4 linked regions of the Homo sapiens genome follow. The protein of the gene in region 1 interacts with the protein of each later gene in a biochemical or structural test. Each region holds a gene or a part of one and is shown in the gene's direction. Other genes may lie near its edges.

Region 1 (7,320 bases):
GGACTGAGGCTTAGAGGAGGTGGTGGCTCAGCTAACTGATGTCATCCCCACCCTCAGGGCGTAGACAGTCAAAGAGGCAGCTCCGGAATGAGAAAGATAAGCCACTGCCTCCACTGCTGGCCCGAGTCGGGGGCAACATTGAGGTGAGAGCTGGGCCCAGTGTTCCTGAGTTCTCCAAGAGGGCATGAGGGCAGGAGGTTGGAAGTTGGTGCCTGGATCACTGAAGGTAGAAAGGACAAGACCTAAGAACCCTAGACATTTGTCGCCATTGCCTCCTTGCTCCCACCCTCAGGTGCTGGGCTTCAACACCCGTCAGCGGAAGGCTTTCCTCAATGCTGTGATGCGCTGGGGGATGCCACCACAGGATGCCTTCACCACACAGTGGCTGGTGCGGGACCTGAGGGGCAAGACTGAGAAGGAGTTTAAGTGAGTGTGGGTGATACAGGGCTGAGTTGGACGCAAGGGGAAGAGCTTTGGGTGTTCCTTTCTTCCTTGGGGCCGCCATATGATGTGACCTTACTCAACTGATTATCACCCTCCCTGTCATACAATACTTCCTGGCTCGATTTCCTGGGGGGTGGTCTCAGCCCACTCCACCTCCCCTCAGCCGAGCCTAGAGTAGAGGGGCCAGGCATCCTCCCCAGGGGAGGGGCGTTGAAGCAAGGAGCCTCTCCTGGGCTGTCCTAGCCTCACATTTACTTGACCACAATAACCTGGCAGGAGGAGCTGGTGGAAAGGATGAAGAGCTGACTGATGGGGCCCAGGAATTAAGTACCAAGGCCAAAGGGAAAGACCCAGGGGTGGGGCGCAGGGGGACAGTTAGGACTTGGAGGGCTGGTAATGGTGAGAGTGAGAGGCCCAGGGGAGGAGCCCTGGAGCACCTGGGGATTTGGGGGTTTGGGGGTCCTCAGTCATCCTCGCGCCTCCCTCACTGCCCTATACCCCTTCTGTGGCTCCCCTAACCCTCCTCCCACTCCCATGCTCCTTAGGGCCTATGTGTCTTTGTTCATGCGCCATCTGTGTGAGCCTGGGGCAGACGGCTCTGAAACCTTTGCCGATGGGGTCCCTCGGGAGGGACTGAGTCGCCAGCAGGTGTTGACCCGCATTGGAGTCATGTCTCTCGTCAAAAAGAAGGTATCAGTCTTCCTGTCACCCAAAGAATCAAGCTGGCTGCCTAGTCTCTGTCCTTCCTCTGCCTCTGTCCCTGAGTTGTAAGCTTGCGCTGGTGTGAGACGGAGGAGACTGGAGCTTCCTGTCTGTAAGCGCCTGGAGCTGACACCTAACCCTCCCACCCTGCCACCCCAGGTGCAGGAGTTTGAGCACATCAATGGGCGTTGGTCAATGCCGGAACTGATGCCTGACCCCAGCGCCGATTCTAAGCGCTCCTCCAGAGCCTCCTCTCCTACCAAAACGTCTCCCACCACTCCTGAGGCTTCTGCTACCAACAGTCCCTGCACCTCTAAACCTGGTAATCAGAAGTCAGGATGGTGGGAGAGACAGAAAGGGAGCCAGGAGTCAGGGCGGGAGAATCTCTGTCTTTATCACTGTGCCTTCCCCTGCAGCTACTCCAGCTCCAAGTGAGAAAGGAGAAGGCATAAGGACACCTCTTGAGAAGGAGGAAGCTGAAAACCAGGAGGAAAAGCCAGAGAAGAACAGCAGAATTGGGGAGAAGATGGAGACAGAGGTGTGTGGCTCCCTGGATTCCCCTGTGGAGCGGGAGGGGAGGGGGCTTGGAGGCCAGGTACCTGGGAGCCCTCTGGCTCATCCTGACCCCATTGTCCTCTTCCAGGCTGATGCCCCCAGCCCAGCCCCATCACTTGGGGAGCGGCTGGAGCCAAGGAAGATTCCTCTAGAGGATGAGGTGCCAGGGGTGCCTGGAGAGATGGAGCCTGAACCTGGGTACCGTGGGGACAGAGAGAAGTCAGGTGGGTGCATGGCCTTAGGAGTGATGGGGGATTAGAATTTGGGATTTCCCTCTTCTGGGGTCAGGGGATGAGGGTAACATCCTCCCTTCCTATCCCCTACCCCCTCCCACAGCCACAGAGTCGACGCCAGGAGAAAGGGGGGAGGAGAAGCCGTTGGATGGACAGGAACACAGGGAGAGGCCGGAGGGGGAAACAGGGGATTTGGGCAAGAGAGGTAATGGGTGGAAGGGACCGGACACCTGGGTCCCAGAGGGCATCAGGGGAGGTGGAGTCTGGGGAACCGAATGCTTGGGTCCTGGGCGGGTAGCTGTTTGAAAGGCCAGTACAGTACAGTACAGATAGTAGTCTTGGGACCTGGGAGGAGGGTGTCCTGAGGTGTGAGCTTTGACCTGTCTGTCCTAGCAGAAGATGTAAAAGGTGACCGGGAGCTTCGACCAGGGCCTCGAGATGAGCCACGGTCCAATGGGCGACGAGAGGAAAAGACAGAGAAGCCCCGGTTCATGTTCAATATCGCCGATGGTGGCTTCACAGGTTGGGGAGACTCTCGCTGCTTTCTGCTCCTCAAGGGGATCTGCTCATCCTCATGGGGTTTCTCGTTTTGCCTGAGGCTTCCTGCTACCTTTAATTCCAAGTAACTTCCAATGAAGTATGTTGCATGCTGACTCCGATCCTTGCTCTAAATCTTTCTTAAGTATCCCTCTTAACTCCAAAGCTGGCCCTAATCCCACCTTTATTCTTAATTCTAACGAACCTGGTTAGAACTGAGTTTGTTCCAAACCTAACCTTTACCCATTCCTCTTCAGGAGCCCTTAGTTCCCTTTCATTATTCAGTTTCTCCATCTCTACCTGTCTGTTGGACTGAGTGCAGTCTGCAAAACCCTGTTACCTCTTCTGTCTGCTGCCTTCTTTGCAGAGCTTCACACACTGTGGCAGAATGAGGAACGGGCAGCTATTTCCTCGGGGAAACTCAATGAGATCTGGCACAGAAGACATGACTATTGGCTTCTGGCTGGGATTGTCCTGTATCCTTTGATACACATGCAAGAAGGAAAAGGTTCTCTCAAGCTGGCAAAAAAAAAAAAGATGATTTCACACCCAGGGACAGGGCTAGTGCCACACTTTGGGGAGTCAAGCCAAAAGGAAGAAGTGTTCAAAGCCAAGCCCATTCCTGTTAAATTCCTTGATGGTTCCTTTTCCTTCATTGGTAGCCATGGCTATGCACGGTGGCAGGACATCCAGAATGATGCTCAATTTGCCATTATCAACGAGCCATTTAAAACTGAAGCCAATAAGGGGAACTTTCTGGAGATGAAAAATAAGTTCCTGGCCCGGAGGTTCAAGGTGGGAATGAGGGAGGAAAGGAGCGGGTTATAGACGGGCTTGGGTCAGAAGTGAGACCAGATCTAGTTGGAACCTAGGGAAGGTTAACACCTTCAGGGCTGAGGTGATACCTGGGGCCAAGACCAAAGTGTAACCTTGTGCTTGGGAGTGTGATCTGGGTCAGGGTTGCTGCTAGGTTCGCAGTCGGTTTGGAGCTGGGAGTGCCCTGGGCCAGCAGTGAGGGCAGGGTGGGTCTCTTGCTATGTCCGCCCCCCCAGCCCCTCACCCACTGCTGGCAGAGCCCTACCTTCACCTCCCAACTCTGTGCCCTCAGCTCCTGGAGCAGGCGCTGGTGATTGAGGAGCAGCTGCGGCGGGCGGCCTACCTGAACCTGTCGCAGGAGCCGGCGCACCCCGCCATGGCCCTCCACGCCCGCTTCGCCGAGGCCGAGTGCCTGGCCGAGAGCCACCAGCACCTCTCCAAGGAGTCGCTGGCGGGGAACAAGCCGGCCAACGCCGTCCTGCACAAGGGTAAGGGCCGCGGCGGCCCCGCGCGGGGGAGGGCCCACAACGCTGCGTAAGTCTTCACCCCGCACCCCTCAAAATCTTCCCACCCCCTGACCCCTCTACCTGCTGAACCATCCCCCTCTGACCTCTAACCCCACTCCTACCGACCTGGCACCCCCTTGGATTTTAGCCTCTAGGACTTGTGCAAGCCAACCCTCATCCATGTCTGATAGCATTCACATCCGTGCCCAATAGAGGGACCTGCCCCAGCCTCTGTGTCCCCTCCACACAGTGGGGCCTCTTCACTGGCAGTGGAACTGCATGCCTGCCATACTGCTTAACATCATCCAGTTAGGGGCCTTGGACTGTGAATGCACCATACAGATCCCTGGCTGTGATCAAACAAATCACATTCCCTCACATGTGTTTCACCCCATAAGGCAGAAACTACCACCCATCCAACCCTCTGGCCTTACCCCATGAAACTTCCCTTTGACCTTCGACCTTTCCTCCTACCCCCTCTCACCTTGCCATTGATAGAGATTATATCCCAAAGCCCTCTAACCATCTAATCCTGCCTGGTGTAGTCACTGACTCCTGGCCCCTTTGATCCCTGTTCTAATTCCTTGAATCTGTAATACTGACCTTCTAACCTCCCTCTCCCCTTACATATTAAAACCGTGATTCCTTAAAGCTTTGACACTTACCACCTCCCATGCCTCCTGACTATTTCCTCCCCATCATCCCCAACCCCAAACCTTGCTCTTCCAGTATGAGATGTTCTGACAACTCCCCGCCCCCATGTCTTCCAATGTCCCCCCATCTTCCTTTCCTCCATGCTCCCTTTTTCTTTCTTCTTTCTCTCCATCTGTCTTCTGTGGTAATCTGGTCTCTCTGTCTCTTTTCCTGACACTTTTTCTTTTCCCCTGAGTTGCTTCTGTTTTCCATCTACTTCTTTTACTTTCTTGATCTCTGGTTCTTTGACATCTGTGTTCTCCTCTCTCGCTCTTTTTCTGCCTGTATCTGTCCATCTGATGCCTCTCTTTTCCTGGCTCCATCTCTGTATTTCCCTGTCTTTCTCTTGCCCTTCTTTCTCTGTGGCCCGGGCCCCAGTTCTGAACCAGCTGGAGGAGTTGCTGAGCGACATGAAGGCGGACGTGACCCGCCTGCCAGCCACGCTGTCCCGAATACCCCCCATCGCAGCCCGCCTTCAGATGTCCGAGCGCAGCATCCTCAGCCGGCTGGCCAGCAAGGGCACGGAGCCTCACCCCACACCGGTAACCCTCTTTCCCCCTAGCTCCAGTTTTCCCTGTTTGTGTTCCTCCTGCACACATACAAACACTTCCATCAGAATCCTATACAATATGGAAAAACAACTTGCTAGAACACAGTCATCACCCTTGAGTGAGTCTCCCTGCCTGTGTATCCTACCCTTAGCAGTTGTGGAGTGTGGCTCATAATGTCTCTCCTACAGCTTCTTTCCTCTCACAGACTATGAACTAACTCCAACTTCTGCTTCCTCTCTGTTCCAGGCCTACCCGCCGGGTCCCTACGCTACACCTCCGGGGTACGGGGCGGCCTTCAGCGCCGCACCCGTAGGGGCCCTGGCCGCCGCAGGCGCCAATTACAGCCAGATGCCTGCAGGGTCCTTCATCACAGGTCAGCTGGTGTTTTCCTACCCCCTGCTACTCACACTCCTCCTTTGCCAAACTTTATTTCTGCTCAGCTGCCCTTTAACTGCTCTAGTCCATCTCATTTCCTTGGTGGTATCCGGTGTTTTATGGGATAGAGTTGTTCTAGGCTGTCCCCCCACCCATCCCTTTCTTAACCCCTCTTCAGTCCCCTTTATTAAAAACCAGAGTTTTAGTAGATCTGTGGCTTGGTGTCTTCTACCCGAGCCACCTCCCTCCGGGTTCCTTCAAGGGAAAGTGAATATGAAACCCGAGGGGTTAGAGAGTGGGAACATGTGTTCAATCATGTAGCACAAAGTGGAATCTCAGGGAAAGGGGTTTGCCCGGGTCTTCCCTCCCTCACGTGGGACAACGGGAAGTGGCAGGAGGTGACCTAGAAGTGAGAATTCACCATTGTCATGAAGTGACGTTTGAGAGTGATCTGGAGATTGATCTTTCCTTACCCCTTTCCCAAACAGCCGCCACCAACGGCCCTCCAGTGCTTGTGAAGAAGGAGAAGGAAATGGTGGGGGCATTGGTGTCAGACGGGCTGGATCGGAAGGAGCCCCGAGCCGGGGAGGTGATCTGTATAGACGACTGACTGGATCCCAGGCCTGCCCTTCACCCAGGCCCCGTCCCCGAGGCCGACCCCCAGCTCAAGCGCTGGGGCCTGCTGCCAGCCCTCCACCTTCCCCACCCCTTGGGCCATCACTGGGCTAGGAACCCCTTTGCCCCTCTCTGCAGCTCCTCTCTTCAAGAAGGGCCCTTTGTCTTTCTCCACTCCCACACACCTTTCCCACCAAGCCTTGAAGACTGTGCTGGTGAGAAGAAGTCTGGGTGGGAGATGGCTGGCAGGGTCTTCCAAGTACCTTCCTCCCACACTGCCAAGTATACACAACTTCCCAGTAAATGGTTGTGGGGAGGAAAGAGGTGGAGCCTCCCCAGCCGTTTCCCTGCAGAATCAGCTCTGTCTCATGTGGAAGTGGAGAATCAGCCTTGCCTGGCCTTTAGGAACTTTTGTGGGGAAGAGAGCTTTGAAGAGAGGAGGGGGACTTTAGAGAGGGATGAAAATGAGCCCTGGGAGGGAGGAAGGGACGAGGAGGGGTGGCTGCATGTTACCGTCCCCTACCTCTCCCCACGTGGAGGGTGGAGCAGTTATGAGGGAGGAAGTCAACTGCTGTTCAGCCTCAGAATAAAGGTGCCGTTCACTGGCTCAGTTACCTCCTGTGTACCGGCATCTTGTGTTGGGAATGTTCCCCCCTCCCTAGGGACCAAGGACCACCCCTACAAAAAGAGTAATGGTTGGGTGATACTCCCTCAAGCCAAAGAGGAGCTCCCCAACCTGTTCTAGGGACCCAGGTAACCTAGAAGGGTGGGAGAGAATACAATGGGCCAGATGTGGTGGAAGCCCAGCTCTGGGGCTCAGGTTCCTGGAAGACTTCTACTACCCTCCCTCCTCAAGGCCTGGATACAGACTAAATTTGTATAAGTCAGGCAGGGGACCTAGTCAGGGTCTTGGGAGCTACCTTGTCGTTGGGACCAGAGCAAAATAGTGGAGGGCAGGCTAGGGAAATGTGGGCACATCCCCCCTCCCAGGAGGGGCCGGGGAGAGTGGCAGTTTGCATGGCGAACCCCCCACTTCCTCTTTGCTGCCCCTTCACTTTCTTGCTGCCCCTTTCCCAGTCTCTCTTCACACCCACTCCTGGTCTGTCCTGATCCCCTCTTCTGTATCAGGTTTATTGGTTGTACATATAAATTATACTTTCCTTTCTGTGTGCTCTGTTATTTTTTATGGGGGGGGGGAGTTTTTGGGGGGAGGGATAAGAAAGGTTGTTGCTTTCTGCCTTTTCTTTTTAAAAAAATCCTACAACTTTTTCCTTTTCCTCATTTTTATCTCTT
Region 2 (8,231 bases), on another chromosome or scaffold:
ATGGACTCACAGCTCCATGTGACTGGGGAGGCCTCACGATCATGGCAGAAGGTGAAAAGCACGTTTTATATGGCTGCAGACAAGACAGAGAGAGCCAAGCGAAAGGGATTTCCCCTTATAAAACCATCAGATTGCTGGGCACGGTGGCTCACGCCTGTAATCCTAGCACTTTGGGAGGCCAAGGTGGGTGGATCAGCTGAGGTCAGGAGTTCGAGACCAGCCTGGCCAACATGGTGAAACCCCATCTCTACTAAAAATACAAAAAATTAGCCAGGCATGGTGGCACAAGCCTGTAATCCCAGCTACTCGCAAGGCTGATGCAGGAGAATCTCTTGAACCGGGGGGCAGAGGTTGCAGTGAGCCGAGATCCTGCCATTGCACTCCAGCCTGGGCAACAAGAGTGAAACTCTGTCTCAAAACAAAACAAAACAAAACAAAAATAACAAATAAAAAAAAACCCCATCAGATCTCATGAGACTTATTCACTGCCATGAGAACAGTGTGCGAGAAACCGCCCCCATGACTCAGTTATCTCCCACTGGGTCCCTCCCACAACACATGAGAATTATGGGAGCTACAATTCAAGATGAGATTTGGGAGGGGACACAGCGAAACCATATCAGTGACCTTGAGCAAGTGACCCGGTTGAGCCCGTTTTTGGGACATCTTACCTGCAGACTTGAGATAATAACTTTGTGTTGTTTAAAGCTGCTACATTCGTGGCCATTTATTACAGCAGTGGCTAAAAACATTCACATGGAAATCAAAGTCAATATATGACAGATGATGAAATGAGCCTCTGAGAAGATAAGTGGGTTGTGGGGAAGGTAGGGGTGTCTCCCAAACCATTGCTGGAAGCACCAGGTGATGCATTCTGCTTTTAGCCCCCCAATTCATGGCTCTAGACGTCACTATCCTTTTGCTCACAAACATCCTTTTAGATAACTACCAGAAGTCCCCAAAGGGAGGAGCATGTCGGGCTACAATAAGCCCACTCCCCTGCTGCTCCTGGTGGAATCCTTGGTCCTTCTGAATTTGGCAGTGGGGTCACGGTTTCACACCCCATGCAACGGCAGCTCTCCTGGGAAAACTTTAAGGTGGGGACAGGGGTGACTGTGGATTTTCCCAATGCTTCTGGCTGGGTGCCCTGGCCACACCTAGGCATACCTGGTCACACCTGAGGATACCTGGGCACGCCTCAGGATATCTGGACACATGGCCAAACGAGAAAGCTTCAGTTTTCTCATCTGTAGGACAGAAGGTTGCAAAGGCTGGAATAACCTTTTTTTTTTTTTGAGATGGAGTTTCCCTCTTGTTGCCCAGGCTAGAGTGCAATGGAGCAATCTCGGCTCACTGCAACCTCCGCCTCCTGGGTTCAAGCAATTCTCCTGCCTCAGCCTCCTGAGTAGCTGGGATTACAGGCATGCGCCATTATTTCCAGCTAATTTTGTATTTTTAGTAGAGACAGAGTTTCTCCATGTTGGCCAGGCTGGTCTCGAACTCCCGACCTCAGGTGATCTGCCCGCCTTGGCCCCCCAAAGTGCTGGGATTACAGGCGTGAGTCACTGTGCCTGGAGAAGCCCTCTTTTTTAATTTAATTTTTTTATATAAAAATAATAAAGACAGGTTTTGTTATGTTGCCCAGGCAGGTCTCGAACGCCTGGGCTCAAGCAATCCACCCTTCTCAGCCTCCCAAAGTGCTGGGATTGTGCGCGTGAGGCGCTGCACCTGGCCCACAAGGAGCCTTCTTAATCCAACCTGGTTACTGAATCACACCTGAGCATACCTGGCGACACCTGAGCATACTTGGGCACATGTGAAGATACCTGGCACACTTGGCCAAATGGGACAGCCCCATCCCTTGGTCTTCCTGGCCTCAGTTTCCTCATCTGTAGGACAGAGGGTTGCAAAGGCCACAAAGACCCTTCTTAACCCAGCTTGGTCACCTGGCCACACCTGAGGTCGCCGGGTAGGTCTCTGTATTCCAATCATCTTAGATCTGCACCAGAGCCCACCCAGTGGCTGGGTGCAACCTGCACACTGGGGGTGCCCCTTAGTGCCTGTTGAGGTTCTGTGGGGAGTGAGGCCTGGAGGGTTCAATTCCTATGGGAGTGGGGATGCATCCCAATGGGGGCCAAAGTTCCAGATAGGTTGTGGCCCTGCAAGGTGCCAGGGTCCCAGTGAGATGTGGAGTGTGGGGTTCTGGCTCCCAGCAGGGATAGAGTTCCTGGCTAGGGTCAGGTGACTTGCTGGTGGAGATTCTCACTCCTGGACCTCGGCAGGGGCTGGGGGGTGCCCATCGGCACGTGTATGAGGGTGCAGACCTAGAGTGAAGGTGGAGGTCTGGGTCCTGGGGATGATAGGGTTGGTGATTTAGGGTCCCAGTGTTGCAGGAGAGGGGTCCCGATCTAGCCCCCAAGAGTGGGTTCTTGGATATTGCTCAAGAAGTAATTCAAGGTAAGTCATAAGAGTACAGGGAAGTTTTAGTTTATTAGAAACTATTCCATTACATGCTGGGTGTGGTGGCTCATACCTGTAATCCCAGCACTTTGGGCGGCCGAGGTGGGCAGATTACCTGAGGTCAGGAGTTTGAGACCAGCCAGGCCAACATGGTGAAATCCCATCTCTATTAAAAATACGAAAATTATTTGGGTGTGCTGGTGCATGCCTGTAATCCCAGCTACCAGGGAGGCTGAGAGAGGAGACTCTCTTGAATCTGGGAGGTGGAGGTTGCAGTGAGCTGAGGTTGCGCCACTGCACTCCAGCCTAGGCCACAGAGCCAGACTCTGTCTCAAAAAAAAAAAAAAAGAAAAAGAAAGAAAGAAAAAAAAAGAAACTGTTTTGTCATAGAGGTGTAACACCTTGTGTTTGTTTTAAAGCTTCCTTCTATAGGGGTCTGTCTTATCTATGTAAAAGCTAGGTTATGTCTGACGGCGTGACATTTATTCCTTAGTTGATTTAGAGAGAGCCATCCTTTGCATTTTCGCGCCCAAGCACGTCCATGCATGACTGTAATTATCTTTAACAGCATATGTGGTTACGCGATATGGCGACATCCAGACATTCCGCTGTCGTCTGTGTTTGTCCTTGGAGGCATTATTAAGTCATTTCTTCAGCCGTAAACATCTTATGACCATGGGCCGTGACCGGCAAGGAATGTGTCTTCCTGGTTTTTAAGATGGAGTTGATGATTAAAATGGTGTCACCCCAGCTCTCCCAGGCTCCTGTCTCCCAAACACAGCGGGTGTTAGGATCTGTGTGGAGTCCCGGATGCCAGGTCTGGGGTCCCCTGGGGGACCAGGTGTGGGACTGGGAGGGTTGTGGTGGGGTGAAGGTCTGAGTGTCTGGGTGGGGGGTTCCATGAAGAATTCCAGTAGGAGTCTGCTGGGGGGTCCATGTGGGATTTCAGCCTTGGCCCTGGTAAGGGTCTGGGTGGGGGTTCTGTGCTGGTCTGGGGTTCCCTGAGGGAGCCCAGGTAACTCTGTGGTTGTCTGGGGTTCCCAACCAAGGTCTGAGTAGGGGTCTGCTGTCCCAGTAGGGATCAGGGTGGGGAGGGGGCTCGTGGTCCCTGAAGTAGTCTGGAGTTCTCTGCAGGGGCCGGGAAGGGGGTCTGTGATCCCTGCAGGGTTGTTGGGGGCAGGGAAGTGGAGGGGTAGGTTTGGTGGGTGGTGTCTGTGGCCTGGCAGGAATTGGGGTGGGGTCTGTGGTCTCAGTAGGAACTGGGGTGTGGGGTCCGTGCTTGGGGCAGGTTCTGTGGTGTCAGCAGGAACTGGGGTGTGGGGTCCGTGCTTGGGGCAGGTTCTGTGGTGTCAGTACGAATTAGGGTGTGGGGTCCATGGTCCTTACAGCTGTTCAGAGTCCTCTGTGGGAGTCCTGGTCCATAATCCTGGCATGGCTCTGGGTGGTTGTCTGGGGTTCCCTATGGGGTCCAAGTCCTTGTGGTCCCTGCTGAGGTCTGCGTGGGGTTACATGATTCTGGCTAAGATGGGGAGGGTGGTTCCCGTGGTGGTCCTGGTCCCCTGCAGGGTCTGGGTAGGGGATCTGTGATCCCATGGTGGGGGTCCTGGCTGGGGCTTGAATGGGGTTCCATGGTCTTGGCTGGAGTGTGGGGTCTTGGAGAGGCAGTCCAGCTGGGGTCTGTAGTCCTGGGGGGCGTCCTGGCAGGGGTCTGTGGTCTTGTGGGGTGCTGGCTGGGGCCTGTGGTCCGGGGGGTGGTTGTGATGGAGGTGGAGGTCCTAGAAGGGGGCCCCAGTAGGGGTCTGTGATCCTGGAGAGGGGTCCTGGTGGTGGGGGTCCCAGTGGAGGTCTGTGGTCCTGGGGGGCCCTGGGAGGATCTGTGGTACTGGGGAGTCCTGGTGGAGGTCTGTAGTCCTGGTGGGGTTCTTGGTGGGGTGTCTGGGCGTGCCCCAGTGGGGGGGCCTGTGGTCTTGGGGGTCCCAGCAGGGGTCTGGGGTCCTGGGGGGTGTTCTTGGGAGGAGTCTATGGATCTGACTTGGGTGCTGGCTGGGGTCTGTAGTCCTGGGGGCGTCCTGGCTGGGGCTGTTGGTCTTGTGGTGGTGGGGATCCCTGCTGGGGTCTGCAGTCCTGCCGGGAGGGGGAAGGGTCCCTGCTGGGGTCTGTGGTCCTGGAGGAGGTGTGGAGGGTCCCTGCTGGGGTCTGTGGTCCTGGGGGGGATTCCTGGCTGGGGTCTGTGGTCCTGGCTGGGGGTGTGTGTGGGGGGTCCCTGCTGGGGTCTGTGGTCCTGAAGGGGGGGTCCTGACTGGGGTCAGTGGTCCTGGGGGCGTCCTGGCTGGGGTCTGTGGTCCTGGGGGGGGGGGTCCTGGCTGAAGTCTATGGTCCTTGCAGGGGGGGGTTCCTGGCTGGAGTCTGTGGTCCTGGGGGGGGTGTCCTGGCTGGGGTCGGTTGTCCGCTCGGGGTCCCCAGTCCTGCAGGCGGTGCGGGATCCCAGAGGGCCCGGGCGGGGTCTGGGGTTGGGGGTTCCCCGCAGGCCGGGGCGGTTCGGGGCGGGCAGGGGGCGGTCCGGGGCGCGCGCGTTTCCGCCGTCCGTCCGGGCGGGCGGGCGCAGAGTCCCGCGGGCGGCGCGGAAGCGGCGGCGGCGCGGCCGGGGCAGCCATGTCGCCATTGTCTGCGGCGCGGGCGGCCCTGCGGGTCTACGCGGTAGGCGCCGCGGTGATCCTGGCGCAGCTGCTGCGGCGCTGCCGCGGGGGCTTCCTGGAGCCAGGTCAGCGGGGCGGGGCAGGGGTCAGGGCTCCGGGGACCCGGGTGGGCGCGGGCTGGCTCGGGGGCGGGGGCGCGGGGGCTCCGCGTGACCTTGGCGAGGCGGTGGCGCTCCCGGAAGTGGGGCTGGGCGGGGGTCGAGGTGTGGCCGGGGGTGGGGGGGGGGCGGCGTGCGCGCTGGGACCTCCCCGCCCCGCGCTTTCCGTCCCCGCCGGCTCTTCTGCGCGCCTGGCCCGGCCCGACCCGGCCCGACCCTTCCCTCCCCGCGCGTGTGGCCTCCCCGCCTGTCCCGGGTCGGGCTCCAACCAAGCAGCCCCCGTGCAGCCGCCCCCCCGCGCACCCTGACACCTCCGGGCCATGGCCGGGGACCCGGGGGCTCGCACGCCCCGCGCCCAAGACATCAGGCGGCTCTGCCTGCCGCCTGCGGTCGGCCAGTGACCGCGCGCCCCCGCCAGGCCCCGGAGGGGAGGAGCGGGCGTCCCAGGGACCTCGACCCCTACCCACCCCAGGGTAAGTGAGGATGGGCCCTTCTCCGGAGGACGTCTCCAGAGGGGGCCCAGAGGCGGCTTCTCGGGCACTGGGGAGCCACGGAGGTCTGGTGGGGAGGGCAGGCCCGTTAAGTGGCAACTTTGTTTCCTTGGCCTTTGTAAACATCTCTGAGTCACAGATCTCCAACTTTGCAGGACTCGTTCACTGTCTGAACTCATCAGTGATGACCGCCACTGTGTTTTGTGTATGCAGATAACTTCTGTTCCTAGATTTGCAGGTTCAGAATTTATTATTATTATTATTTTTTGTAATAGGAAGTAGAGATGAAGTCTTGCTCTGTTGCCGAGGCTACTCTCGAACTCCTGGGCTCAAGCAGTCCTCCTGCCTCAGCCTCCCAAAGTGCTGGCATTACAGGCACCAGCTACTGCATCCGACTAATGTTTTAAAGTTTTGTAGACGGGGTCTTGCTATGTTGCTCAGGCTGGTCTCGAACTCCTGGGCTCAAGCGATCTTCCTTCCTTTGCCTCCCAAACTGTTGGGATTACAGGTGTGAGCCACCACACCTGTCTAATGTTTTAATTTTTTTGTGTAGCAATAGGGTCTTGCTACGTTGCCCAGGCTGGTCTGAAACTCATGGGCCGAAGCAATCCTCCTACCTGGGTCCCCCAAAGTGCTGGGTTTACAGGCGTGAGCCACCACGCCTGGCTAATGTTTTAAATTTTTTGTAGAGATGGCATCTCACCATGTTGCCCAGGCTGGTCTTGAACCCCTGGCCTGCAGCAATCCTCCAGTCTGGGCCTCCCAAACTGCTGGGATTACAGACAGAGCGCCACTGTGCCCAGCCCATATTCTCAATTTAAACCTAGAAACCTGTAAACAATTATTTGTGAACTGGAATAAAGGGAATGTTAATTCCATGTTAGGTTAAATGATACTTTGTTTCAAAAATAACAGTTTTCCAAAACAGAGCGTTCAGAGGGTCAGTGTGGTGGGGGTGGGGGTGTACGTTGCCCTGAATGTCTTAAATGTCCAGCCTAAGAAGAGAGCTGTTATTTCTGCCTCTGTAGACAGTTTCATGGCATGTCAGGAGGCCTCTGGAAGACACTACTGCACGCCTCTGGGAGACTGGGAGTCAGCCAGGCGAAGCGCTTGGGTGCCTTATTGTGAAATGACTTTTGACTTCCACTCTGCACCCACTGAAGGAATCCCAGGGGTCCCAGCGCCACCCTTTGAGAAGCGTGCCTGGAGTGGATGTTTTAAAATGAGCCTCTCTCTCCCGCCTCTAGCCAGAGAAAAAGAGCTTTGAGTTTTCTGTGAGCTAAGCTTTTCTTTTTCTGCCAAACTGGCCTTCAGTATTTTTTTTTAAACCCACTTAGCATAATTACAAATGCATAGAAGAAGGAGAGTAAAGGGAACTGTAGTCAGGCTTTCGGAGGGCAGGAGAGCATGTTTGTTTGAAGTAAGTAATCAGTTGCAAGGTGAACGGTTTACAGCTGCTGAACAATTGTGTGGAGTCTCGCAGAAGATTATGTTTATCCGGGCAGTTTTGCTTACAGAAAGGTCCCCTTAAACCTCCTTAAGGGCCTGTGTGGGCCCTGGCAGAAGAGGCCGGGGTTCCTGCAGCAGCTCACCAAAATGCTGGCCTTTGAAAAACTTGCTCTTTGTGCATTAGAAAAAGGGCTGGAATCTTTTTTTTTTTTTTTTTTCCCATTTACTGATTAAACAACAACAGAAGGTTGTTAAAGAGGACGAGCTTCTGGTGAAGTCACGTGTCTGCCAAGGGAATCTGTACCCGGGTGTGTATCGAAACAGAATGGCCTTCTCTAAAGATTAACTTAAGTGGCTTGCCCTCATCGAGCCCCTTCCTATGTATGGATTAAAAATAATTTTCGATACCAGTGGAGGAATGCTGTTGTCCTTGGTCTGCTGGTGGCCAGCTTCCTAAACGGCATTTTTTATTTGCTTCTCTCTGGTAGGCCTTCGCTGTTGGTGAGGAAACATTGAACTTTGTCCAGGGCATTTGAGCTAAGCTGTTTGAATAACCAAGAGGGCCAATTTCCCCACTGCAGATTGGAAGCAAGGGCAGTTTTTTCTTAGAACTTCCAAATGGAGCGTGTTCTTCTTAGGTATCGTACAAAGGAAATGCCTGGGTTACACCTTCCACATGAGTTGACTTACATGGTATGAGAAGGAAGAAATTGTGGCTGGAATCCACTCCTAAATGGTGTCTTCTTACAGTTCATCATGGAAAAACAAGATAATTACAAATTAATCATAGATGTTGGTCATGCCTTTACAGAGGGGGTTTAGAAGCAAATTGAGAATTCCCATAAGAGGGTCTGTCTCTGTGTTCTTAAGACTATATCCATGCGGCCCATTCAGTAAGTTGTATCTGTTGGTTGGATTTTAAAATAGATGATTTAATCAGTGCATTTAATATCCTAATATGGCATCAAAACTTGAACATTGATATGGCCTGAAATCTGTTGAAAATGATCATATTGAGTAAAGAAAGTCTCTACCCA
Region 3 (7,320 bases), on another chromosome or scaffold:
AGTTGGCATTCTTCTTAATAATAATTTTAAAAAGGCTAGTAATGACAATTATGAAGCAACTTTAAAATGTCAAAAAAGTGTTGCTAATATATTAGTTGATAAGATTTTTTCCCCCTTAATCTGGAACCCAAGGGAGTCTACTCTATTAAAGAAGAAAGAAGGGGAAAGAATAACCTGAAGAATTTTTAGTAAAGAAGCCTTTTAAGTTGAGCATTTGGAAATATATTTGAAGCATAAATCTAAGGCTTAAATTCTTTAGGGATCCTTCCTGGCAAGACTAGGTAATCAGATAATTACTCTGCTTAGTCTATAGCTATGCCAAGAAAACTTTTTTTTTTTTTTTTTTTTGAGACGGAGTCTCGCCCTGTCGCCCAGGCTGGAGTGCAGTGGCCAGTGGCGTGGTCTCGTACGCCAAGAAAACTTTAAGCTGCCTTCCTTTGTGTGACTTTCATTATTGTGACCACAAAGAATGCCTATTATCATCATCCAGCCTCATGAATACATTGAAGCCCTAGTATTGCTATGTGGTTGATGAAGTGCTTAATATTTTTTAAAAATATGGTTATAAGATTATAAATATATATAGGTGTGACTATTACCATCCCTAGTAGCCTCCTCCTCTTGGAAATCTACCAAGACCATATGTGCCGAGGATATGTTTATTAACCTAGTTCCAAGCAGTTTGGTTGTGTTTTTGTGTTTGGTTTTTTTTTTTTTTTTTTTTTTTGAGACAGAGTCTTGCTCTGTCGCCCAGGCTGGAGTGCAGTGGCATGATCTCGGCTTACTGCAACCTCTGCTTCCTGGGTTCAAGCAATTCTTCTGTCTCAGCCTCCTGAATAGCTGGGATTACAGGCACGTATCACCACACCTGGCTAATTGTTGTATTTTTAGTAGAGATGGGTTTTCACCATGTTGGCCAGGCTGGCCTCCAAGTCTTGACCTCCTTGGCCAAGTGATCTGCCCTCCTCGGCCTCCCAAAGTGTTGGGATTACAGGCGTGAGCCACTGCACCCGGCCAGCAGTTTGGTTTTTAACATCTTTATTTTGTGGAAAAAGTGGATACATCAGAGGAGACAGTAATTTTTATATAGGCAAAGGGGCTTTGGTTTGTAGCAGTTTGATTGATGATGTTGGGGGAAGTACTTTGTATTACTCCAGAGTAGTTCTTGATTGTCATTAGAGTATCAGGCTACTGAGTAAGACATGGAAGAAAAGTCTTAATAGGACCATCACAAAGTCTGTCACTTGTTTATGAAGTGATTTAGCATGAGGTAATAGAACAATGGATTGGGAAGAATTTCTAGGTTATAATTTCGGTGTAGTTGCTAACATTATGACTTTATGCAAACCACTCAGTCTCTTAAGGGTTGGCGCTCCCAATTTGCTTCTTGCTTTAATATTCTGTGATTCTGTGCGTAGTCTGTAATTGCTGTTTAATGTAGTACAGGTTGCAGAAATGTTTGGAAGTACCTCAAGCTAGTTTTAGTTTTTACTCTTTTCCCATCAAGTCAACTCTTTACCACCTTAGATTTTTCTCCACTAAGAACACAAACAAATGTCACTTCTAGTGGCTGCACCTTCTAAAATTAAGTGAAGTAGGTGTTTCAGTATGTAATTTTTCTGTTTTGTGTCTTCTTTTATAGGACTTTGTATCTTTGCTAAAGTCAGTGATGTGAAAAGACTTGAAATGGGTAAGACTAACTAGCTGTTGAATCCTTTTAGCTACTTTCATTGGTTAAGCTGTAGTGAAAGAATGGGTTTTCCTAACATTTTCAGTATTTGTATCTTTGTGCTTAATAATAATTTTAAGAGAAATTTTAATCCTAATTATGTAATACTATATACCAAACAAAATTATTATTATTGCTATTTTTGAAACGTAGTCTTGCTCTGTCACCCAGGCTGGAGTGCAGTAGCACAATCTCAGCTCACTGCAACCTCTGTCTCCTGGGTTCAAGCAATTCTCCTGCCTCAGCCTCCCAAGTAGCTGGGATTACAGGCATGTGCCACCACGTCCGGCTGATTTTCGTATTTTTAGTAGAGACGGGGTTTCGCCATGTTGGCCAGGCTGGTCTCAAACCCCTGACCTCAGGTGATCGGCCCACCTCAGCCTCTCAAAGTGCTGGGATTACAGGCATGAGCCACCGCACCCAGCCCACATAATTATCTTTTGGTTAGAACATTGTTTATATGCTCATTTAGGAGTATTATCTCATTGATTGTATTGAAAAAGTTAAGTATACCCTAGCAAACATTTACTGTGTACTAGACCCTGTTCTAAGTATTTAAAATATATTGGTTCATTTAATCCTTATAACCATCTTACAAGGGTACCTAATAGTACCTACCAAGTAGGTTACTGTTGTTATCCCTATTATATCACAAGGAAACTGAGACACAGAAGTTAAGAAGCTCGCCTAGAGTCATGTACTATAACTGGCTGAGCCAGGATTTAAACCTAGGCACTCTGGTTCTAGAGTTTTCTAGAGTTCTCGTTCTTTTTTTTTTTTTCTCTTTTTTCTTTTGAGACGGAGTCTCGCTCTGTCACCCAGGCTGGAGTGTAGTGGTATGATCTCAGCTCACTGCAACCTCTGCCTCCTGGGTTCAAGCAATCCCCCTGTCTCAGCCTCCCAGGTAGCTGGGATTACAAACATGCGTGCGCCGCCAAGTCCGGCTAATTTTTGTATTTTCGGTAGAGATGGGGTTTCGCCATGTTGGCCAGGCTGGTCTTGAACTCCTGACCTCACGTGATCCGCCTGCCTTGGCCTCCCACAGTGCTGAGATTACAGGGGTGAGCCACTGCGCCCAGCCAAGAGTTCTTGTTCCTTAGTACTATGTTATACTACTTCTAAATGATAAATAATTTGATTAATGTAAATATTCTATTTCATTTAGCTAGTGTTACTGAGAATTGTGGTTAGGACATTTTTCACTATTTCATTTGTAGTACTTTATGTCTGTTAAGGGGATCAATATAAGGTCAGGACTAGTAGCTAATTTAGGAATAAGTTGAAAAATCTATACACTTAGGTCTTATAACATCCCATATGTTCCTTTTACATTCACATTAGCTTTCTCTCTATTCTGTGTTTTCCTTTTCCTTAGTCTGCCTTCTCCTTCCCTGTTCATTTGTTTCCATTTTCTCTCATTGCTGATAGCAGTGTAAGTCGTTGAATTCTGTTACGTTTATTGCTTCTATTCTAGCTCTTCTATAGTAACAAAGGTATCAAAAATGGTTCTGAAGTAAAATTCTGCCATAATATTATAGTTATTGAGCTGATACCTGTTAAGAGCAATATGAATAAAATTATGCTTTTAAAAAAATGTTCAGGCAGATTATTATTATTATTAGAGACAGGGTCTCACTCTCTTGCCTAGGCTGGAGTGCAGTGGTGTTATCTTGGCTCACTCCATCCTCTGCCTTGGGTTCAAGCGATTCTCATGCTTCAGCCTCCAAGTAGCTAGGATTACAGGCATGTGCCACTATGCCTGGTGTATTTTTAGTAGAGATGGGGTTTTGCCATGTTAGCCAGGCTGGTCTCAAACTCCTGGCCTCAAGTAAGTGATCCGCCCACCTCAGCCTCCCAGAGTGCTGGGATTACAGGTGTGAGCCACCACACCTGGCAGGTGGATTACTTCTTAAAGCACTTCTTTGTGTTAAAACAGGAAATGAACCAGTGTTAACAGTGTGTGTTACTGAATGGTGAATTTTTTCCCCCAATTTTTTTATATTTAAAATTTTTTCTATAGTTAAAATATTTAAAAAGTTTCTTTTGGGAGCATTTTTGTTTTTTGTTTGTGTTTTTCTTTGTTGTTGTTGTTGTTGTTTTCTGAGACAGGGTCTCACTCTGTCACCCAGGCTGGAGTGCAGTGACTCTGTCATGGCTCACTGCAGCCTTGACCTCCCCGGGCTCAGAGTATCCTTCCAGGTCGGCCTCCTGAGTAGCTGGGACTACAGGCATGCACCACCATGTCTGGCTAATGTTTTGTTTTGTTTTTTAATAGAGACAAGATTTTGCCTTATTTCCCAGGCTGGTCTCGAACTCCTGGGCTCAAGCCATTCGTCTGCCTCAGCCTCCCAAAGTGCTAGTATTACAGGTGTGAGCCACCTTGCCTGGTCTCGTTATTTTTAAAGCTTTAAATTAAGCTGTTTTTATATGTGTACAAGTTTTGAACTGTTTGGTAGATGGCCTCAATTAATTCCAAATGAGCCAATTTCTGCACATGGACCTCTTTTGACAATGACAATATGAGATTTTTGCCATTGGTTAGCTATGAAAGAGGGATTTTATTTTATTGCAGAGTTGTTCTTCAAGTTCTTTTTTGTCTTTTTTTATTATTATTGTTAGACATAGGGTCTCCCTCTGTCCCCCAGGCTGGAGTGCAGTGGTGTGATGATAGCTCACTGTAAATTTGAACTCATGGGCTCAAAACAGTCCTCCTGCCTCAGCTTCCCAAGTGGTTGAGGCTACAGACACGTGCCACATTGGCTGGCTAACTTTTTTTTTTTTTTTTTGAGATGGAGTTTTGCTCTTGTTGCCCAGGCTGGAGTGCAGTGGCACGATCTTGGCCCACTGCAACCTCTGCCTCCCAGGGTCAAGCAATTCTCCTGCCTCAGCCTCCCGAGTAGCTGGGATTACAGGTACCCGCCACCATGCCTGGCTAATTTTTGTATTTCTGGTAGAGACAGGGTTTCACCATGTTGGCCAGGCTGGTCTTGAACTCCTGACCCCGTGATCCACCCGCCTCAACCTCCCAAAGTGCTGGGATTACAGGTGTGAGCCACCACACCTGACCTGCTGGCTAATTTTTAAATTTTTTTGTAGAGACAGGGTCTTACTATGTTGCCTAGATAGATCTTGAACTTTTGGCCTCAAAAAAATCCTCCTGCCTCAGCCTCTCAGAGTGCTGGGATTACAGGCATGAGACACCATGCCTGGGTGGGAATTGTTTTTATTAGGTGAAAAGATTGGTTCATAGGAAAAACGTTATTGAAGAATTATGTGACTTGAACTAATCCAGACTGTCTCCCCAGATGATATTGCTGATAGGATGAGGATGGATGCTGGAGAAGTGACTTTAGTGAACCACAACTCCGTATTCAAAACCCACCTCCTGCCACAAACAGGTTTTCCAGAGGACCAGCTTTCGCTTTCTGACCAGCAGGTTAGGAGCAATTTTCTTCCTTTAATTAATTAATTATTTGGGCTCATCATAAGTTTTCATCTTATGTAGTTTAAATGCCACACTCAAAAATACAAGCATAGCTATAAACTTTTTAGAATCAGTAATTTTAGTGTTTGGAATTCTGCTCTATATATTAAAATTAAGACAAGGACGTTAAGACAAAATAGGCTATGTATGAGTTCTTTGAGAACAGTACGTTTTAGAAAACTCATTGTTCCTCTGAATTTTAAAATTACTTATATGCAGATCAGTGTTCTTTTAAACTAGCACCTAAAATTGCTGAGCATTAAATGGGGGAGAAATGTGAAAATATACAGCAGCTCTAAGATGTCTGTGCTATAATGCCTGATTTCTCAAGGTCTAGTTCGGGACCAGCAGCATCAACATTACTTGGGAGCTTGATAGAAATGCAGACTCTCAGGCTTTACCTCATATCACTGAATCAGAATTTATATTTTAAAAACATCCTCATTTGATTTATATGCACATGAAAGTGTGGGGAGCACTATTAAGCAGTCTTTTTCAATAGGAAAGCCATTAGTAATTTGGATGAGATCATTCTTTGATGTGTGAATCTTTCCTAATTATAGTAGGATGTTTAGCATCCATGAGCCCTAGGCACTAAATTCCTGTAACATCCACCTCCCCCCATAATCATTTTAATAGTTAATATATATCCACACATTTCCAGATATGTACTCAGGGTATAGCACCACCTCTGATTAAGAGCTATCTCTGTAAAGTTATCAAAAGAACCAAAACCAGATTGATTTTTCTCAACCTTTTTAATATGTGTTATAAATGGCTTTCAGACAGGATGTACTAAATACATATTTACCTTCTAGTGAACATTCTTTGAATTAAATTGTATAACAAATATTTTGCCTGTTTTTTTCCTTGAAGCCTGAATTATTTCATTAGATTGTCTATGTGTTTTCCTTTCTTGTTAGTATGTAGTATTAATACGTATAATATATAAATATAATTATATTGAGTTCTGAAATAGTCTTAGTTCTGCTATAGTCTTTATTTAGAGACGGGGTCTCTCCATGTTGTCCATTGCTAGTCTTGAAGTCCTGGGTTCAAGTGATTCTTCTGCCTCGGCTTTGCAAAGTGCTGAGATTATAGGCATGAGCCACTGCACCTGGCTTATAGTCTTGTTTAATTATATATTTTTCCTAGTATATGTTTTTATTTTATTGTTAAAAAAGTGACATGGCCGGGCGCGGTGGCTCACGCCTGTAATCCCAGCATTTTGGGAGGCCGAGGTGGGCGGATCACCTGAGGTCAGGAGTTCAAGACCAGCCTGGCCAACATGGTGAAACCCCGTCTCTACTAAAAATACAAAAATTAGCCAGGTGTGATGGCGCGTGCCTGTAATCCCAGCTACTCAGGAGGCTGAGGCAGGAGAATCACTTGAACTCAGGAGGCGGAGGTTGCAGTGAGCAGAGATTGTGCCGGTGTACTCCAGCCTGGGCAACAAGAGTGAGACTGTCTCAAAAAAAAAAAAAATGTGACTTAAGAAAAATCTTCTGCTTTGTTTAGATTTTATCTTCCAGGCAAGGACATTTGGACCGATCTTTTACATGTTCCACAAGAAGTGCAGCTTATAATCCAAGCTATTACTCAGGTATGACACATTACTTGGAGTCAAGGGACTTTATACCTTTTGGATTTCTTGATAGCATATCGTTTATGTTTATCATCTCCAAAAGTAAAAACATTGTCAAAAACAAGATGGTATTTTCTTCACTAAAACATCATTTGAATGGCTTTTCCTGTGTATGTGGTTGCTATGATACTTTACTGATTTTGTCTCATCCAAATACTGGTTTTCTAGTGGGAAAGTGTTTTGAGAATCTAACTGTCCATTATGCCATTGTAAAAAGCAATACAACTTTGTTTTTGACCTTTTTTTGGGAATATGTGTATGTGATGTGTGTAAAGGGTGTTTGTTTTGCGTTAATTTAAATCACAGAGCAAGTTTATTTCTGTTCTGCTTGAAACCATGAAACCTGAAAATTTATTTCTTCCTGAGCTTGTCCTTCTTTCAGGGCAGGAAATGTTAACTACATGTTTCTGTCTAGCACCTGCCACAGCCATATGCTTGCATATTCAAGGGCTTTTCTATTTA
Region 4 (7,320 bases), on another chromosome or scaffold:
GCATTTGGGGTCTTTCCAAGGAGTTCCCTATGAATCTTTCAAAAGATGCAGACTTACACCTCTGGGCTTTATAGCTTTTTTTTTTTTTTTTTTTTTTTGCTTTATCATATCGTGTTTTACATTTTTGTAGTTCTTGTTCAGAAGTTGTTTAGTGCCTCCTGTTGACAGTGGAAACAGAACTAGGCTATTGTTTCAAAACACAGACACTAAATGAAAGGAATTATTACAGATTATAAATATATATTTCCTGGGATTTTATTTGGTGGTGGTGGTATTTTAAATTTGGATTACATCATGTCGCCATTCAACCTGGACTATCAGATTGTTGCTTAAAATAATAGCTTTAAATTATGAGAACCCCCAATTCAGGATTTTTGGTAAGCACTTCAGCTTCACTTGTAGGGGGCTGGTAATATGCATACCAGTGAGTTAGTTTGGGAAGACAAAACCTGTAATGAATATAACTTTTCTTTTTAAAAACAATGATTTACATTATGATATGGCTTTATATCATTGTTTTTATTGGTCTTAGTTTAATGGGTTTCCCAACATTGCAATGACAAATTTTAGTGAAGTTTCTAAGATAGTATTTTTCCTATTTTAAGTTTTATAAGAAAAACTATAAAATAAACCGTGTCTGTAAAATTATTGTCATCTGATCAGTTGATTAGATTAACAAACATTATGATTATGATTAACAAACAGTAAGCATATAGTTACTTCTTCAAAAGTCATAAAATTTCCTAGGTTAGGTTAACTAAATAAAAGAAAAAGCTTTCGAAAATAGTAATGGGTTCTTTTAAATCCATGGCTTTTTTCTGGGGAAATCCCTTCTGGATTAGGTTACATTTTATAATATTTCAAACACCATTCCATCAGAGACAGAAAAAACAAGAGTAAGTAAGACTCTGACTAACAAGTGGCCTAATTATTCACTTAGTTACTCTAGAAACTAAGTATTGTAAACATGGGCACAAGTTGGATCAACCAGGCCTGGAGTTGTGAGCAATTTGGTATTAATTTTATTTACAAAACATTAAAGCTTGATCACTCAATGTTCTTATCTTTGCTTTGGTTTTAAAATCCTTTCCTCTTAGATTCTCCTAATCCTCTAGACTTTATGGGATCACTATAATTCTGTTTTGCGCTGTACTACTTCTTGATTTTTTTCTTCTTTTAATAAAACAAAAACCCCATTGGAATAGCATAGTTGAATTGTTTATTATGTTTGAGAAATATTATTTAAACGATGTGACAGATGCCAAAGATTTTGAGTGTGCACTTATATAAAGGACATGGGTTCTTGTTCCTTTTCTTATCCTTAACCTTAAGTTTTCAACTTAAACCTTCACTGGTTGGAAGGTGGCCAAATGTGTAACTTGTCCCTGGTCTAATAGTAACAGCAGGTTCAGACATGCAGGGGAATAGGAAGGTGCCAGGTCCTTGGCCGTGTCTGTGGATACCCATAACAGCAGAACCAGTTTACAATACTAGAGCAACAGAATGCAGCAAACAATCTTGTTGTGCAAGTTTTCAAAGTTTTGTCTTCATAACCTTTGAAAAGATTGTTGAGGAGTTTTGTGTAAGTTTTGTAATCCAGTAGTAGTCTAAATCCTCTTGTTTCAGCCCACGTCTACCCATTCTTATTTCTGCAGCATATATAGCAGTGACGAGGATGATGAGGACTTTGAGATGTGTGACCATGACTATGATGGGCTGCTTCCCAAGTCTGGAAAGCGTCACTTGGGGAAAACAAGGTGGACCCGGGAAGAGGTAACTAATCATTTTATCAAGACGCAGAAAATAGATAGAGTGTATAATTTATAAAAAACAAAATTTCAACTAAACTACAGGTGCTCAAGCTCATTAGCAGGCTCCTTGAGATCTTATCCTAGCCCGCATGTGCAGCGTGCCCTATGCCCCCCACTTCATTATATTATCCATTTCCACACTATTTGCAGTTCTTTGAATGTCCTCTTCTCATTTTAGGCTTCATCTGTGTTTCCTTTTGCCTGTTGAGTTCTCATCCTTTTGTCCCACCTCTTCTTCCTACTTTTACATTACCCATGAAGGCATCACCTCTTCTGTGAAGCCATCCCTGGCTTCGCCGGACAGGATTGGATGCATCCTCCTGTGATCCCATGCATGGGTGCATGTTCTACTTTATTGTTGCTGGGACATATATACCTCCTCCAGCTGACTGCAAGTCTGTTGAGGGCAGGGCTCTTGTCTATTCATCTTTGTGTTTCCTGAATTCACAAATGCTTGGACCCAAAATAGGATATTAATAAATGTTCTCTCAATAAGTGAATGACTTGCTACTCCCAAAAACAAAACAAACAAAAGAATAAAACAAAACACTCAGAGAACTCATCTTTTTACAGTGTATTGATTTAATATCCTTGATATACTTAACAGAGCCATCTATATGAAGGTATGTTTTAAAATCATCCGATAATGGATGGAGACACATCTGCTTCTCCTGTTTCTTTTTCGGCTGGCTTATCAAAAGTTTGATTTTGTAGGAATGGAAAAATATTTTAGAAGCAAAATTATTAATATGTGGAGAAAAGTTTCTCTAATGTTCTTAAAATTTTTGCAACTAATTTTAGATGATTCATGTTACAATAAATGGTATTGGCTCTTCTTCAGTTTCACTGTTCTCTGCTTCATTTAAACCAGAGCTCCTTTTAACAGGCAGGTAGGATTCCCAGAGAGGCCCATAGGAAATTCATATTTTACCTATTAAGATTATCCACTTGGATAATCCTTATGATACGGAAATTCTGTTGTCAACATTGGTTTCCTAATTCTTGTGTCTGTATTGTACCAGGGACCTCCACTGTGTGTGAATGTTACCTTTGCAGAAACATAAGAAGGAATGCATTTATATACTTATGAACTGGTAGGATTGTGAACAGCATATAAACTAAAAGAACTGATTAGCTGGAAATGTTTAATGTCTTTTATGTTCTAACACATCTGGCCTATCTAAATCTAACTGATTTTCTTATATAGCTTTCAAATTTAATTTTAAAAATGGTCTTTATTTCTTTATAAAAAGTTAAACTAACTGGAAATATTCTATTTCTTGCTCAAGATCCTATTTATTACCATAGGTAAATGTGTACTGAATCTAGCACTGGAATGCATTTTTTCCTAACAGAGTAAAGCAGTTATTTATAATAAACACTCAATATATGCCAGGCATTATGATAAATGTTTTGCAAAATTGCCTCATGTAATCCCCAAATAACCCTGTTAATATCAGCCTCATGTTAATAAATTGCCCCATGTAATCCCCAAATAACCCTGTTAATTTCCATTTTATAGATGGCAATACTAAGGCCCAGAAAGGTAAAATGGTATACCCGCTTTACACAATTAATAGTTGAGTCAAGATGCCAACTCTGGTCTGATTCTAAATAAATCTATACTCCCAAGTCCGTATATTACATTAATATCTCCTGTATTCGGATACTTTAGAGAGACTTTTTATTCTAGATTCGTTCCCTCATTCACTTTAACTTGAACAGAGTTATATAGTAAATAACTGATATCCTAGGATTACCTTTAAATGTCTTAGGATGAAAAACTGAAGAAGCTGGTGGAACAGAATGGAACAGATGACTGGAAAGTTATTGCCAATTATCTCCCGGTAAGTTAGTAAGTTTTTCTTATAACGAAAGGAAAGCTTCTCCCAAAGATTTCTATAAAATATTCTAGGAGGAGTTATTAAGATAGTGTATAATTTACTCACATTTAAGAAGTGGGAGAAATGCCCTACCCATAACTTATATTTTATATTATAATGCATATAATTAAATTATTAGAATTTAGATTATTAGAATCGATTATTATAATTTAGATTATCAAATTTTAAAAACAGTTGCTTCTTGTTTTATCTTTTCATTTATAGGATAATTAGTATTTTGATGATTTGTTACATGGTAGTTGATTAAACTTGATATTTCCTCCAAGTCAGTTTTTCCTGAATTCCCTATTTTTGTCAATAGCAATACTTTTGGCACCAAGGTTTAAAATTCTGAAGACCTTTCTTGACTTATCACATTCCCCCAACCCCTACATCTAAGCAGTTACTAAGGACCCTGGAATTCCTTTATAGTCAGTCCCGTCCTTTTCATTCTCATGGCTGTGCTGAAGGTTGGGCTCCTGCCCTCTCATTTGGACTATCATATAACTTCCTAACTGGCTTCCCCACTTGTAGTTTTCCATTTTTCTTTCTTTTTTTTTTTTTTGTTTTTTGTTTTTTGTTTTTTGAGATGGAATCTAGCTTTGTTGCCCAGGCTGGAGTGCAGTGGCACGATCTCAGCTCACTGCAACCTCCGCCTCCCAGGTTCAAGCGATTCTCGTGCCTCAGCCCCCTTAGTAGATGGGATCACAGGTGCCCGCCACCATGCCTGGCTAATTTTTGTATTTTTAGTAGAGACAAGGTTTCACCATATTGATCAGGCTGGTCCCAAACTCCTGACCTCAAGTGATCTGCCCACCTCAGCCTCCCGAAGTGCTAGGATTGCAGGCATGAGCCACCGTGCCCAGCCAGTCTTCTACTTTTCCATTCATCCCAAACACCATTGGCAGGTGGAACTTCCTAAAATGCAGCTGTACCTTATCTTTTCAAAACCAACCACAGTGACAGAATCTCACAAATTAAGTAAACTGCCTTGACTTGGCACACAGAGGCCCTCCTCTATTGCCCCAACTTACAGCTCCAGTTCTGTTTCCTGCTTCCTCTCTCTAAGCAGGTTTGCTTGAATTTATTTCTGCTTTACCTCCTCTGGGCTTTTGCTCCTGGTCTTCCCACCTCCTAGAATATTCTCCCTTTATGTCACCAATTAAAGTTCTGTCCATCCTTCAAAGTCCTTATGAAGAGCTCTTCAAGACTCCTCCCAAGGAAACCATTTCTCCTCCTAAGAAGATGCTTCTCTCCTCACTTCAGTATCATTTTGCTTTGGTCTTTTCTTCCAAGTGAATCAAATTCAGCATCTGTGATAGTCAGTCATCTACTTGTCTTTTCCTTCTTATAAGTTTACAAACTCCTGTAACATAGGACCTATCTTTTATGCATCTTTTTTCTTTCTGCAATATAAATACTTTGGTCCTGGATTGAAGCACATCTCTTGTCTGAATGGGAAGCAAACTTTAGTCTTTTAGGGTGGTTTCCATGAAAGCCTGACAACATAGAATCTCTATCAAGCCTCAGGCTATGTAGATACTCTGCAAAAGTATCTGAGGTTAAGGTTAACTTGGCAGGCACATGTGTAGTATGATGGTCCTTTAGATCATGTGGCAGGAATGTTTCCCTCAGGAGGCAGAGTGTCTAATTTTAGATGCAACTTTGATATATTACTTGCATGTTCTGTAGCCTGTAAGTAATGAGGGATAGATGGGCTCTAAACATGCTCTAAAATGTTCTTAAATATTTTCACTGCATATGGTCTATGTGTGATTCCTATTACAACAAAAAATTCACGTGCTTATCACATCATATCTTTATGGTGGTGCATACTTTATTTGTCTAGAATCGAACAGATGTGCAGTGCCAGCACCGATGGCAGAAAGTACTAAACCCTGAGCTCATCAAGGGTCCTTGGACCAAAGAAGAAGATCAGAGAGTAAGTTCTTTCTTCATTGGTGTGTGACTCATAATTAAGAATATTCCCAAAATGCTAATATTTTCCTATTTGAGGAAGCAGGTAAAATGGGCAAACAGGAAGTAGAGGACTCTATTCCCATATTTCCAGTGAATGAAAGCAAATTTTGGAAATTTTCTAAAGATCTTGTAACACTGAAGAATGATTATACTGACTCATTACATAACTTTAAAACATAGGTTATTTTTGTGTGTTTATCTGAAGGTGATAGAGCTTGTACAGAAATACGGTCCGAAACGTTGGTCTGTTATTGCCAAGCACTTAAAGGGGAGAATTGGAAAACAATGTAGGGAGAGGTGGCATAACCACTTGAATCCAGAAGTTAAGAAAACCTCCTGGACAGAAGAGGAAGACAGAATTATTTACCAGGCACACAAGAGACTGGGGAACAGATGGGCAGAAATCGCAAAGCTACTGCCTGGACGGTAATAATATGTCAAAAAATATATTGATCGGGAAGAATGAGGGAGTGGGTATTGAACATTCTGCTTTAAATGTATGGTGAGTAAATTATATTTCATCAGTCGTAAGTGTTTTATTAGATAAACCAGCTACATAGCTTTTAGAGATTGAAGACATCTTAGAGTTTATTTGGTTGAGAACTTCCAGGATCCACCTGACAGTGAGCCCTGGGTGAAGACATTTAGCTTTCCCCAGCCTCAATTTCCCCATTTCCAAAATGAATCATACAGGGCCAGTGTTAGGATCAAGTAAAATGAATGTCAAAGGACTTGGTAAACTATAAAACTCTAAATGCATAGAAAGAAACTGAAGACAGTTTGTCTCTGGCAGTTCACGTAGCTGGTTAAGTTACTCAAAGGAACTCAGCTACCATTTTCCTGATAACCATCATTCATTTCTTTTATTTTTTTTAATTATTATTTTTTAGAGACAGAGGCTTGTTCTGTCACACATGAGTGACAGAGTGCAGTGGCATGATCATAGCTCAATACATCCTTGAACTCCTGGGCTCAAGGGATCCTCCCACCTCAGCTTCTTGAGTAGCTAGGACTACAGGTGCACCCCACTACACCCAGCTGATTTTAAAATATTTTTTGTAGAGATGGAATCCTGCTATGTTACCCAGGCTGGTATCAAACTCCTGGCCTCAAACAATCCTTTCACCTCCCAAAGTGCTGGGATTATAGGCATGGGCCACCATACCTGGCCACCAGTATTCATTTCATTATACCACTTTGCTTAATTTTTTACTTCATTGATTAAAGAAATAATGTATTTCTTGAATTCTCATACTACTTCCAGGTTTTTAAATAATGTCAGGGTAATAATGCTTTCTTTTTAATGAACAAGGCAAGAAAATGACCTCATTATGAGGGATAACTATGGAAGCTCATTTTGTCCCATTTTTCCCACTTAAGTAGTATATAACAGATTTTGTTCCTTTGGAAAGCAATACTTTTAATGATAAATCTTGCATTAAAATGATGTAGATCAAAAATATTAAAAATAGTTTTATTCTTGAGCTTCATAATCCAGGAGAAAGTTTATATAGTATTCTCTAGTGATGCTCCAAAGCATTTGCACCCTTGTGGTTCAGTATAAACTTAGAAATTTTAAGAGGTTGGTAAAAAAAGGCCTTTCCTCCCATATGGCCTGAGAGGATACACTGCTGATTCTTCTCAAA

The links.
Region 2: the proteins of CHD3 (region 1) and ZBED1 form a complex in vitro, tested with the Homo sapiens proteins (one study listed by BioGRID).
Region 3: the proteins of CHD3 (region 1) and SENP1 form a complex in vitro, tested with the Homo sapiens proteins (one study listed by BioGRID).
Region 4: the proteins of CHD3 (region 1) and MYB form a complex in vitro, tested with the Homo sapiens proteins (one study listed by BioGRID).

What each region holds. Positions count from the first base shown.
Region 1 is NC_000017.11:7,905,564-7,912,883, forward strand, and holds the end of CHD3 (chromodomain-helicase-DNA-binding protein 3), read left to right. Parts: intron 1-57; coding exon 58-143; intron 144-292; coding exon 293-426; intron 427-559; exon of another isoform or gene 560-697; intron 698-989; coding exon 990-1,134; intron 1,135-1,305; coding exon 1,306-1,468; intron 1,469-1,562; coding exon 1,563-1,684; intron 1,685-1,789; coding exon 1,790-1,925; intron 1,926-2,037; coding exon 2,038-2,139; intron 2,140-2,327; coding exon of another isoform or gene 2,328-2,330; coding exon 2,331-2,456; intron 2,457-2,838; coding exon 2,839-2,947; intron 2,948-3,133; coding exon 3,134-3,266; intron 3,267-3,579; coding exon 3,580-3,775; coding exon of another isoform or gene 3,776-3,821; intron 3,822-4,864; coding exon 4,865-5,028; intron 5,029-5,283; coding exon 5,284-5,410; intron 5,411-5,900; coding exon 5,901-6,022; coding exon of another isoform or gene 6,023-6,141; 3' UTR 6,142-7,192; downstream 7,193-7,320.
Region 2 is NC_000023.11:2,497,807-2,506,037, reverse strand, and holds the start of ZBED1 (E3 SUMO-protein ligase ZBED1), read left to right. Parts: upstream 1-5,061; 5' UTR 5,062-5,112; coding exon of another isoform or gene 5,113-5,221; intron 5,222-5,412; exon of another isoform or gene 5,413-5,727; intron 5,728-8,231. Other genes in the region: DHRSX (polyprenol dehydrogenase), read left to right, coding at 5,113-5,221.
Region 3 is NC_000012.12:48,095,839-48,103,158, reverse strand, and holds part of SENP1 (sentrin-specific protease 1), read left to right. Parts: intron 1-1,642; coding exon of another isoform or gene 1,643-1,686; coding exon 1,687-1,690; intron 1,691-4,004; coding exon of another isoform or gene 4,005-4,097; intron 4,098-5,021; exon of another isoform or gene 5,022-5,034; coding exon 5,035-5,165; intron 5,166-6,731; coding exon 6,732-6,816; intron 6,817-7,320. UniProt on the Homo sapiens protein: Protease that catalyzes two essential functions in the SUMO pathway.
Region 4 is NC_000006.12:135,184,248-135,191,567, forward strand, and holds part of MYB (transcriptional activator Myb), read left to right. Parts: intron 1-1,655; coding exon 1,656-1,773; intron 1,774-3,586; coding exon 3,587-3,658; intron 3,659-5,543; coding exon 5,544-5,636; intron 5,637-5,879; coding exon 5,880-6,100; intron 6,101-7,320. UniProt on the Homo sapiens protein: Transcriptional activator; DNA-binding protein that specifically recognize the sequence 5'-YAAC[GT]G-3'. Plays an important role in the control of proliferation and differentiation of hematopoietic progenitor cells.